2 linked regions of the Homo sapiens genome follow. The protein of the gene in region 2 interacts with the protein of the main gene of each other region in a pairwise test. Each region holds a gene or a part of one and is shown on either strand. Other genes may lie near its edges.

Region 1 (4,633 bases), on a different chromosome or scaffold from region 2:
AGAATCGCTTGAACCCGGGAGGCGGAGGTTGCGGTGAGCCGAGATCATGCCATTGCACTCCAGCCTGGGCAGCAAGAGCGAAACTCCATCTCAAAAAAAAAAAAAGAAAAAGAAAAAGAAAAAAGCATTTTAGTGGCCCAGGTGGCAACATAGTTCAGCTCAACATTCAACCCAACACTGATGATGTACAGCTGTGCTCTGCATAGGGCAGACAGCCCAGTAAAAGGCTCGGTGCAACAAAAGCCAAGAGTCATTGAGTACTTACAAATTGCTTAGCACAGTATTTGACATATAAGTACCATCTCCCTCCATTACTAACAATCACCACCGCAGAAAGTAAGTGCTATTACTATCCCCATGTTACATGAGGAAACTGAGGCTCATAAAGGTTGGGTAATTTGTTCAGGGCTCCACAGCTAACTAGAGGTGGACCTGCAATTTCAAACCCTGATCTGCCTGGTCGGAGTACTTAATTACATGATCTCCCAAAATAGGTTAGCCTTGCGGGGAGTGATCAATTAACTTACATAAAGTCCTTCCTCTCTCCAGTATCATGTGGGAAAGACTACTTGAAAGGACTGAAAGCCATATCTAGTTTGGAAGGGGTTCCCATAAGTAAACATCAAGTAAGATGCAGCATGTCATATTTTTATCCATTTCACACTCAAGATGAAGTTCCCAAGGATCCCTTCTGTAGCTGCTTCACCGTATATACCCTTCCTCATTCAGCCCATCCCAAAACAAATTCTGACAATGACACATGAGCTGCATGTAGCTGACCAGCCTACCAGATCTTTTATGCAGTTCGACATACAAGGTGACACCAAGGTAAGACAAATGAAGTTCCAGTTTGGGTGCCTCCATCTCCCTCCCCTGGATCCTGATCCAGTGACTGCCAAAACCAGAAAGAACTGGGGTAGGGTGCTTGATCATGGGGAACGCTGTTGTGGTTCGTCCGGCAGATGGGAAAAGGGAAAGGTTTCACTTCTTCACAATTTGAATGACATCCTCATCCTCCAACGTATGGTCTTTACCCACTTTCTGAGGATTGTGTTTCACAGAGAGACCCCAGACCAGAGCACTGCATGGAAGGGAAAAAGAACAGTCAGTGTAAATAATAACCTAGCTTCTGCCCTATTTGCCTGGATGCCACCCTTCTGCTCAGATTTAGTATCATACCCTTAAGAACCATAGACCTACAAAAGCTTTATCTTCCCTAGCAGCATGAGACACTGAAGCCTTAACATAAAAGCCGGTAAAGACTTCTGGAAGTTGTGTGGTTCCTCTTATTGCAGAAAGTCAAAGACAAAAAACATGTTTAGTATAAAGAGCCTAGTTTAAAATTAAAAGAAAGCATGGATTTGTTATAGAGAAATACTCTGGGCCGGGCGCAGGGGCTCATGCCTGTAATCCCACCACTTTGGGAGGCCGAAGGGTGCGGATCACCTGAGATCAGGCGTTCAAGAAAAGCCTGGCCAACATGGTGAAACCCCGTCTCCACTAAAAATACAAAAATTAGCTGGGCATGGTGGCGGGTGCCTGTAATCCCAACTACTCGGGAGGCTGAGGCAGAAGAATGGCTTGAACCCGGGAGGCGGAGGTTGCAGTGAGCCAAGATCATGCCGTTGCACTCCAGGTTGGGCAACGAGCGAAACTCCGCCTCAAAAAAAAAAAAAAAAATCCGTCTTTAATCTTCATAGAGAAATACCCTGAAAATTTCAGACTGATTCTTACAGATACAATATCACTTATAGACTGTTAGAGAATACCTGTTTTTGCTGGGTTTCCTGAAACCATCAGTGGGTACTGACAAGAAATTAGGGCCTCCCTCTTCAGCCATGCCAGGAAAATCTTCCTCCCTAACCAGAAACTGTAATTGATATGTCCTCCCGATTTACTGGAATATGTGAAGGTAATTTATATCCATGGGCCTCCAAACTTAAGAATATGTTGTGCTAGAGATGAAAACTGGTGAATAAGACACCGAGACCTGCCTCACAGAGACTAAGAACTATGTACCAAGAGTAAAAAAGGTGGCCATATTGTTGTTATATTATCATTGAGTCAAAACCTCTTTAAAAAATCTATATTCCAGGCCGGGCACGGTGGCTCATGCCTCTAATTCCAGCACTTTGGGAGGCTGAGGCGGGCGGATCACGAGGTCAGGAGTTCGAGACCAGCATGGCTAATATGGTGAAACCCTGTCTCTACTAAAAATACAAAAATTAGGCCAGGCGTGGTGGCTCACACCTGTAATTCCAGCATTTGGGAGGCCCAGGCGGGCGGATCATGAGGTCAAGAGATCGAGACCATCCTGGCCAACATGGTGAAACCCCATCTCTACTAAAAATACAAAAAAATTAGCTGGGCGTGGTAGCGCGCACCTATAGTCCCAGCTACTTGGGAGGCTGAGGCAGGAGAATCGCTTGAACCTGGGAGGCGGAGGTTGCAGTGAGCCAAGATCGCGCCACTGCACTCCAGCCTGGGCGACTGAGTCTCTCTCAGTCTCAAAAAAAAAAAAAACACACACACACACAAAAAACACAAAGCACAGAGTAAGGGATCAGTGTGGTCAAGGACATGAAGGAAATGGAAAAGGGATAAATGTTATAATTAATTAGGCCTGAAGATGAAAGTTTTCTATTATTAAGAGAGTTGTACCAGTCTGGGCAGCATGGAGAAACCCTAGCTCTAGAAAAATAGAAAAAATTAGCCAGGCATGGTGGTTTGCACCTGTAGTCCCAGCTATTTAAAAGGCTAAGGTGGGAGGATCGCTTGAGCCCAGGAGTTCAAGGCTGCAGTGAACCACGATTACGCCACTGGACTCCAGCCTGGGCGGCAACAGAACAAGACCCTATCTCAAAAAAACCAAAAAGATAGTTGTGCAATAATTAAAGAAAAAAAAAAAAACAGTAAAATAAGAGCAAATAAAATCCTGTTTGCTTCGATATGTTTCTTATCTGAGACATTTTTCTCCCCTTTTTAATTCCCTGGTAAATTTAAAGTTCTGAAGGTTTTGAACAATGTTTTGCCACCATAGAAGGAAAGAGCTATATATAAATCTACAAAGTTTGAAAAAGGACAGTGTTTAACTTTTTACAAAAGTCATCTTTACCAGTTAAAGTAACTGCCAAAGCATAATGTTTTGACTGTGGTGGAAATTAGCACTTACATGTGGAATATAGTTGTTTTATATGTAAGGATCTGAAGGTCAATAAAGGACTTCACTCTCTCAGTACTCTTAGGATCAGAAACAAGTTTTTTCTTTCTTTGGTTGGTTTTTTGAGGAAGGGTCTCAGTCCGCTGCCCAGGCTAGAGTACAGGGGGCATGATCATTATCTTGGCTCGCTGCAATGTCAACCTCCTGGGCTCAAGCAATCCTACCTCTGCCTCCTGAGTAGCTGGGACCACAGGTGCCTGGTACCATGTCTGGCTAATTTTTTTATTTTTGATAAAAACGGGGTCTCACTATATTGCCTAGTCTGATCTCACACTCCTGGACTCAAGCAGTCCTCCTGCCTTGGCCACAAAGTGCTGAGATTACAGGCGTGAGCTACCACACCTAGCCCTATTTTCTTCTTTTGTTTTTAACCCTTTTTCCTATTCAGAAAAAAAAGTGCGGCGGGCACAGTGGCTCACGCCTGTAATCCCAACACTTTGGGGGGCCGAGGTGGACAGATCACGAGGTCAGGAGATCGAGACCATCCTGGCTAACATGGTGAAACCCCGTCTCTACTAAAAATACAAAAAATTAGCCAGGCATGGTGGCAGGCACCTGTAGTTCCAGCTACTCGGGAGGCTGAGGCAGGAGAATGGCATGAACCCGGGAGGCGGAGCTTGCAGTGAGCCGAGATCGCACCACTGCACTCAGCCTGGGCAACAGAGCAAGACTCCGTCTCAAAAAAAAAAAAAAAAAAGCGGGGGGGGGGGGGGAAGGCCGGGTGCAGTGGCTAGTGTCTGTAATCCCAGCACTTTGGGAAGCCAAAGCAGGAGAATCGCTTGAACCCAGGAGTTCGAGACCAGCCAGGGCAACATAGGGAGACCCTGTCTCTACAAATAAAAAAAAAATTTGCTGGGCATGGTGGCATACACTTATGGTCTCAGCTATTCAGAAACTGAGGTAGGAGGATCGCTTGAGCCTGGGAAGTCGAGACTGCAGTGAGCTGTGACAGAGCCACCGCACTCCAGCCTGGGAGACAGAGAACCTGTCTCAAAAATAATACTAAGTGGGAAGGCTAAAATGAACCCTGTAGTGGCCGGGCATGATGGCTCACGCCTGTAATCCCAGCACTTTGAGAGGCCGAGGCGGGCGGATCACGAGGTCAGGAGATCAAGACCATCCTGGCTAACACGGTGAGACCCCATCTCTACTAAAAATATAAAAAATTAGACGAGTGTGGTGGCGGGTGCCTGTAGTCCCAGCTACTCAGGAGGCTGAGGCAGGAGAATGGCGTGAACCCGGGAAGCAGAGCTTGCAGTGAGCGGAGATGGCGCCACTGCACTCTAGCCTGGGCGACAGAGCGAGACTCCATCTCAAAAAAAGAAAAAAAAAAAAAAATTAACCCTGTAGTATTGAACTAGAATCAGAGATAACAGTATAAACTCATGGTTTTTAGGAAAGATGGATAAATGA
Region 2 (7,284 bases):
GGCCCTAGCCCAGCTGACTGTTTGCCAAAGGCCAGACCCAGCCTGGGAAAAACACAGCACAACTGCAGGGCAGTTCTACCCTGGGCGGCCTCTGAGGAAATTACTTGCTGCTTTCAGGCCTCCAGGCCAGACAGAGAGCATCCCTCAGCAGTGACATAGGGAGGACAGTCCCTCCACCATGGCTAATGCTGGTGATCTTGAGGGAGCTCCTAGTTGGGGAGGGGGTACTTATGACTGCTGTCACAGCTGGAGCTAGACTACATCCAGAAGGGGAGATGGTGGGGAAGTGGTCAGGACTTATTCCAAAGCTTAAGACCAGTGTTATGAGGGTGGTCCAGGACTTAGCTGTGTGACCCAGGACTTAGCTGTGTGACCTTGATCAAGCTGGGTAACCTCTCTCAGCCTCAATTTCCTTATCTGTGAGATGTAAACAATAATATTGCCCTCATGAGCTTGTGGTAAGGAATAAACAGAAATCAAGCACACATAGTCCATGGCACATAGTAGGTGTCCAATACATGGTAGTAGCAATTCAGCAACAGGAATCCACATCAAGTCCTAACTCTAGATCTTGCATTAGTTCTACTTCTATGGACTCTTTTTGGGTTCAATCTCTAATTTCAGTGTCCCCTAGACACATCCTGCACACTCATACCCTACCCTTCGCCTACATGTCTGCCTATTCCTCTCTGGTTTTATTCCAGAGAACCACCCCCTCTCCTCACCTTCCTCTTTCCTGAGTCTGTCTACCCCTCCTGGTGTCCTCTGCCTCTCTCTGGCCAGCACTGAGTAGGTGCTCGGTAAATATTGCCAACACTTATGGATAATGACTGCCCTACACTCCTGCACACCCCACAAACCCTCGCCCCTATGCTCTGCCTCTTCTGCCTATTGTAGAAAATGCCTCATCCCTGGGGAACTTCAGGGCTGGTCCTGTCTTCTTCCTGTTTGGTACACCCACCTCTCTTAGACTAGAGAACTCCTCTCTAATCTAGCAGAAGGCACCCCTGCCTCTCAGCCCTGCACACCTGTGCCCCAGGCTGCTTGGGTCTTTTGAAGTCTTTTCTGTTGTGCAGATCCCAGCCCCGCTCCTCTCCAGAACACCACAGAGGGCTCCACTCCAGAGGCTCCAGCTCCATACTCATATTCCTCCCACCAGTTTGGAGCATAAATCCCAGCCTTGCTCTGAGGCCTTGGGCAGCCTTCCTACAGGAGCCCCAGGCCACAGCCAAGCTGAAGTTCTGGGGGCATCTGGGTCTGGCTCAAAGTCCCTCAGCTCTGAAGTGCCTGCTCTCCTACCCCTGGTGCTGGGACCAATCTACTATACAAGGTCAACCTTGGAAAGATGGCGAGGGTCTTCCAAATCTCCCATTTGTCCAAACCACCCCTGCAAGTTCAGGGAATATTCAAGTACCTCAAAGGAGCAGTGCCAAGGCCCTTCTCGGGGAATCCAGGGGGCAAGGTAGAATCCATGATGTCAGGAAGGGAACTCCAGGTCTAAGCCCAGAATGTGTTAACGGGAGACAAGGGGAGCCTACTGTGTAGGGACCTCGGAGAAAACCCTTGATGACTCCATTGCAGGGAGGAAGCAGACTCCAGACTCTAAGGAAGACTTGGGAGGAAGTGCAGGGAATCCCTGAGGGTCAGTGCCTAGAATGGGGGATCGGGGGACACTGTGTGATTCTGCGCCCACTTGGGATCCTTGCCAAAGTGTAGGAATGGAGCCCGGACTGGGGACTGGAACTAACTCCAAAGGTTTGGGAACTAACTCCAGAGGTTTGGGCTAAGCGCCATTATGTGTCTCTCTCCCATGCCTCCTCTTTGCAGGACTGTGAGTGTGGTCCTGCTAGCCCCATCCAGGACTTTACTTAGCCCTAGCTCAGCTGCAGGGTGAAGGGCTTCGGCAGTTTGGGTTTGGAAAGTGGCCCGCCCATCTTTGTGAGATACCTACGGAGTAGTCCCAGATGTTCCCTCCTCCAGAGGGCTCTAACCAGCGTGAGGGGCAGGTACAACGGTGGGGTGGGGCAGACTCACCATCAGTAATCTCCATCTCATAGGGGGAAGGTCTCCTCTTCACTCGATTGTTGGTGGTGAACATAGGGAAGGCATCCGGCTCCCCAAAGAACCCGCTGTGGGAGGGAACGGGCAGATCACAAGATCCCATGTTGAGGGGAGGGGAGAAAGAGCTTCCTTAGGGATCCTCCCCACATGTCTTGAGCCCCCCACCTCTGGGCAACCCTGGTCCCTTCACACTTGAGCTGGGAATAGGCACACACAGACACACACACACACATACACACGGAATGCCCTCACTCTGTCTGTCATAAAACAAGCAAAGGGAGGAAAAGACACCTAACCACACATCCCTCCACACAAACACAGGCACATATGCAGAAGCAGAGGTGAATAACACATGGAATAAACACAAAAATGAACACACACACACACACACACACACACTTCACAGATAGAAACACTCTCCATTCTCCCGCCCCAGAAACAAGCACATAATCCACACACACCTCCACTCCCAAACACATGCCCACTCAGGCAAATGTAACCTTCACACCTGATGGTGTGCATCTTGGTCACCACAAAGGGGCACACTGTCCCCTCTCCCCACCTCACCCCACCCATAAGGGGCTGTAGATACACAACAGACAGGAAACCCTGACTCCCCTCAGCTGAAATGCTCCGCCTAGCTCTCTGCCCTCACCCACCCTAAGCTCCCCATAGCTCTGTCTCGGGTGCCCGCCAGGTTCATTGACTGCCCCACACTCTATCCCTGCCCCATCTGCCGGTTTCTATTCCAACCCTATGGCTTCTCTCCCTCATCATCACAGTAGCGCCAGCAGGGAAACGGATGCCCTGACACCAACCGGAGTACAGGCTGGGGCCAGAGACCACGGCTAGGAGCAGAGGGGCTGGGAGTGGAGGGACAGGTCAGTCCTCAGGCGGGCCCTCCAGCAGAGATTCGGGGGAGGGTGCCTCTGCCACCACCCTCAGATCCTTATCTCTTGCCTGTCCAGCTAGCGCTGAGTTTCCGAATGAATTTCACACCACAAACATCTACCTCTGCTCACAGCAAAGCACATGCAGGCACACTCTTTCCTGGTACCCACGCTCAGGGGACTCCTTCCTCTCCGTCCCCCACGACACCACCACCAAGCACACCAGCCACATGCCTGCACCCGCGAAGGTGTCCACGTCCTCCTCTCGGCTTCCACACAGCCATGCACCCCGCAGCCACACGCACACTCTCTCTCACAGAAGGCCCCTCCCTCACTGGCACTCACTCGGGGGCTCCAGCTTGAGGCTCTAGAGCCACTGGGTTTAAAACGACCTCCTCTCCCTGCGCTCCACCCGCTCGGCCCCCAGGGCAGGCCGCCGCCGATGTGTAGAAGGAAACCCCGGTGGGGGTGGTCGCCCTGCCCACCCGCCCAGCCCCTGGCCCCTGGCCCCTGGCCCCTGACCTGCCGAGAGAGGCCAGCGGCTGGCTGAGGCTGTAGAGCAGCGCGCGGCCGGGGGCGGCGGGGGCAGCCAGCGCGGGAGGACTCAGCTGCACCATGCGGCCGTCGCCGGGCAGCTCCGCTGTAACCGAGGCGGGCGCGGGGGCCGGGGCGGGCCCGGGAGGTCTGCACAGCTCGGTGGTGGGCACCCGATGGCGCGCTTCGGCCGTCGCCGCGTCGCGGCCCTTTAAGTCTCTCGCGGCGCCGCCCCCACCGGCAGGGCCGCCCCCCGGGCCTCCGCGCGCGCCCAGTTCGATGACTGGGGGCTCCGCTGCGGCCGCGCGGCTCGTCTCCTTGGCGACGCCGTTCAGCAGGACCAGGTGCGGGGGGGCCATGCTGGCCTCGGCCGCGTCCCGTCCCTCTAGCTGGGGGTCACTGCGAGCCGCCTCGCTCGGCGGCCGCTCGGTCATCCTGTGGGCAGACAGACAGACAAGCGGATGCCCGCTCTGACGACCGCCCCTGACCCACCGACGTGGGCTGGGGTAAAGGGGAGAAGGGCAGAGAGAGGAACTCACGCACCGAGACGTGAGAAGAGGCAGACAAAGTTAGCGCCACGTGGGGCTAGGGCGGGAGGCCGGTTGGGGCTAGGGTGGGAGGGAAAGAGGGTCTCTGGATTGGGAGAAGGGAGGGGTGCCTGGGAGACACAGAGACTGAGGGCCAAAAGGACAGAGATGGAGGAAGACGACAGAGACACCGGAAGAAAAGGAATACAGCCAGCGACAGAAACACAGAAGGGGAAATCAGGAGGAAGGAAATGTACAAGGAGGCAAGAAAGAGATTACTCTGTCCCCTTTCTCAGGCCTAAAGGGAAGAGGAGGGAACAAATTCCGGATCGTGCTCTTTGGTTTTAGCGGGGAATCTGTCAGGCAGGGGTTCGTTGCTTTAGGAACCTCCCTTGGCCTCTCAGCAATATTCCCAGCCCACCTACAGGCACACACCCAGAAACCCGGTGCGGATGGAAGTAGGGAATTAGAAAGTGGAGGCTACGGGGACTGGGATCCACTCCGCCAGAGCTGGCAGAGAATAATCCCGAGGAACCAGCTCCCTCCACACACACACACACACACATTCGCCCCCGCTGGGGAGTGAGGGAGTGTCTGTCTACACTGAGCAAATCCACTGTGAGTCCTCTGCCCGCCCAGCGGATCTTTACTCCCACTCAGACAGAGATGAGAGGTCGCCAAGGGAAGAAGATGGTGCTGGCCCAACCTCCCTGCACAGTCCACCTCGTTCTGCTCAGCTGGACTCTGAAGTGAGGTCGAGTCTCAAAGAGAGGCCTGGCTGAGGTAGAATGGAGCTGGGCATTTGAAGGGTTCCCTGAGGCCAGTGGGGTCTGGACTCCCATCCAAGAGCAGGACAGGATGTCATGAGGCCCTTGAACTCTTCCAGCCCCCCTCACCGCCATCTCCTGCCTTGGTGTTCTTTGGGAAATGGGAGGAATACCTCCTTTATGCATTTGAAAGTGCTGTGCAAACGTTCAAGTAAACATTATTAACAAGGAGAATGGGCCAGTGAGAAAACTGCCTGGCCGAATGTCAAGTCACTCACAGCCTATCTGTGAGAGAGCCAGACCAGAGCAATAATCTCACTTTGCTCAACCCTCCTGTATTCCCAGAGCAGTGAAACCACCTTGTGACCCCACAAGCATACTCCGAGATGACCACAGCCACTCTACTTCCCACAGGTGTGCTGGGGCTCTTCCATCACCTGGCTTCATCCAGATAGAGCTGGGCACCAGCAAGAACCAAAACAGAAAAATCAGGAGACTCAAGGGCCAGAGTTTGTGAGTTGTGAGTTGTACATATATGATCAACACCACATAAGTTGTTTAAAATAAGCTTTCTGCTCTCTGAATTATATAATTGGGTATTTAAAAGAAGAAAACAAATACAAAAAAACAATTTACCCCCATGCAGAGTCCATCTAAATCATACATAGCAGCCATTGAGCTCCCATACTGCCACTGCAATGCTCTGGACAGGAGTCATCCTAGGAACCATCCCTCCCACCCCAGAAGGGAGAATGGATCATCTGCAGCCTCCTCTGGAGCTTGGCTCAATTGCCACTAGACACCCAGGATGACAGAGAGTCAAGATTCAGACTGCTGTACACCTTCTTTGGGAATGCCAGCCCCCCAGGTCTGGCACAGAAACCACAAAATTCCCTAAGTCCTGGTGTATACAAGCTGTAAAGGCAGTAGGTCCCTGACACTTCATTGGAAGTGAGTTTATGATTTTGGTGGAGACAATAGGTCTCTATCCATAGAATGCAACCACCAAGACACCAAGGCCACTGGAAATGCACCAGAAGTATATCAGCCAGGTCCTCTTGCTCCCAGCAGCAGCGAAATGTGCCAGAAATATACCAACCCCTGGGAAACATACAAGCTTCAAGGTATTGGTTCCCTACCTCACTGCTCTCCGTCCTGACACACCGGTGTGAGCCCAGTGATCCATGCTTAAGCCCCAGCTTCTAACCGAGTGACAGTGTGCACTGCAGTTGCAGACTGAGCTCAAGCTCTGTTATGACACATTTTTACCCTCCAATTAATTCTTAGGCTCCTGCTCTAGCGGTGGATTCCTGAGAGGCAATGGGAGTACATATTCCAGATGAATTGACCCTGGCCACAAATGTCCTCTCCAGACACCTATAAATATCCCATCGCCAAGGTTCCTTGTAAGAAATATATGATTGGATCCCAGGATCTGTGGAGGACCTCTCCCGGCTCCTCCCCACATTTTAGGAAAATCCTGCCGGTTTAGGATTACCAGCCAGAGGTCCATGCCCCAAAGAAGCCACTCACAAACACTGATGGTTGTTGGCGACTAAGCTGCATCACTTGATTTGGATTACAGAAAGGAACGCCCGAGAGATTTTGTTTGTTTTTATTTGGGGAGAATGAAGGAGGAGGGAGATTTTAGACTGAATCGTTCTAGAGTATTTGACGACTACAGCTCCTCTCTCTTTGTACTACGGAGACCCTGCTTATAGCCCCCAACAGGAAATCCTCATCTGCAGTTGCCAGACAGCCAGAATATTTCCACCTGTGCCAGAACAAGACAGAAGACCCCAGGAGATTCTTCCTGGGGACAGGTCTCAAGCAGACCCAATCCCCCATACAGAGAATTTCTTAGATGAAAACAGCCTCAGGCCCTTAGACCCAGCCTCTGGTCTCTCTTCTGGGCCCACACCAGCACAACACCCTGGAGAAGCCCCAAGCCTGCACAAGTACCAAACCCACCAGGGAACAGCACCACCATCCTCGCCTCTACCGGAGAAGAGGGGTGTTCCTGCCTCCCCACCCTAGGCCTCAGGCCTGGGATCAGGGCCCACTCGAGCTGGGACTGCACTAGCCAGGAAGGCTGCCGCCTTCCTCCTGCGGGAGCTCCAGGCACAGTCTGTACCACCCGGATACAGCCGCCCCAAAGTTACCGGCCTTGGGAAACGTCCACAGAACCGGGACCAATGGGAAAGGCCTGGACGACTAAGTCCAACTAGCTGGTTTTACCCTGGGTGGAAAAGGGAAAAAGCCGCTGAATGCCACAGAGGCAGCTACAGCAGTCAGATCCCGATTCCAAGCTCTGGCTGGTCCTCCCCTCCCCCCACCCCCAATCTGAGAATGGGCTCTCCTCTGTCCTGAGCCTTCCTCACCCCAGGCCGGAACACAAGGCCTTCCTAGACACCGTTTCCACCGGCACCATTCCCCTGAAAACTCACCTGGGGCATATTTAGAGAGACCGGCCCCTCTGAATAGGATCTCCACTCCGCCGGAAAG

The links.
Region 1: the proteins of TAL1 (region 2) and DRG1 interact in a two-hybrid assay, tested with the Homo sapiens proteins (one study listed by BioGRID and IntAct).

Annotation. Positions count from the first base shown.
Region 1 is NC_000022.11:31,430,320-31,434,952, reverse strand, and holds the end of DRG1 (developmentally-regulated GTP-binding protein 1), read right to left. Parts: intron 1,082-4,633; coding exon 982-1,081; 3' UTR 501-981; downstream 1-500. UniProt on the Homo sapiens protein: Catalyzes the conversion of GTP to GDP through hydrolysis of the gamma-phosphate bond in GTP. Appears to have an intrinsic GTPase activity that is stimulated by ZC3H15/DFRP1 binding likely by increasing the affinity for the potassium ions.
Region 2 is NC_000001.11:47,221,970-47,229,253, forward strand, and holds part of TAL1 (T-cell acute lymphocytic leukemia protein 1), read right to left. Parts: 5' UTR 7,227-7,284; intron 3,921-7,226; 5' UTR 3,920-3,920; coding exon 3,474-3,919; coding exon of another isoform or gene 3,297-3,473; intron 2,130-3,296; coding exon 2,035-2,129; intron 1-2,034. UniProt on the Homo sapiens protein: Implicated in the genesis of hemopoietic malignancies. It may play an important role in hemopoietic differentiation. Serves as a positive regulator of erythroid differentiation.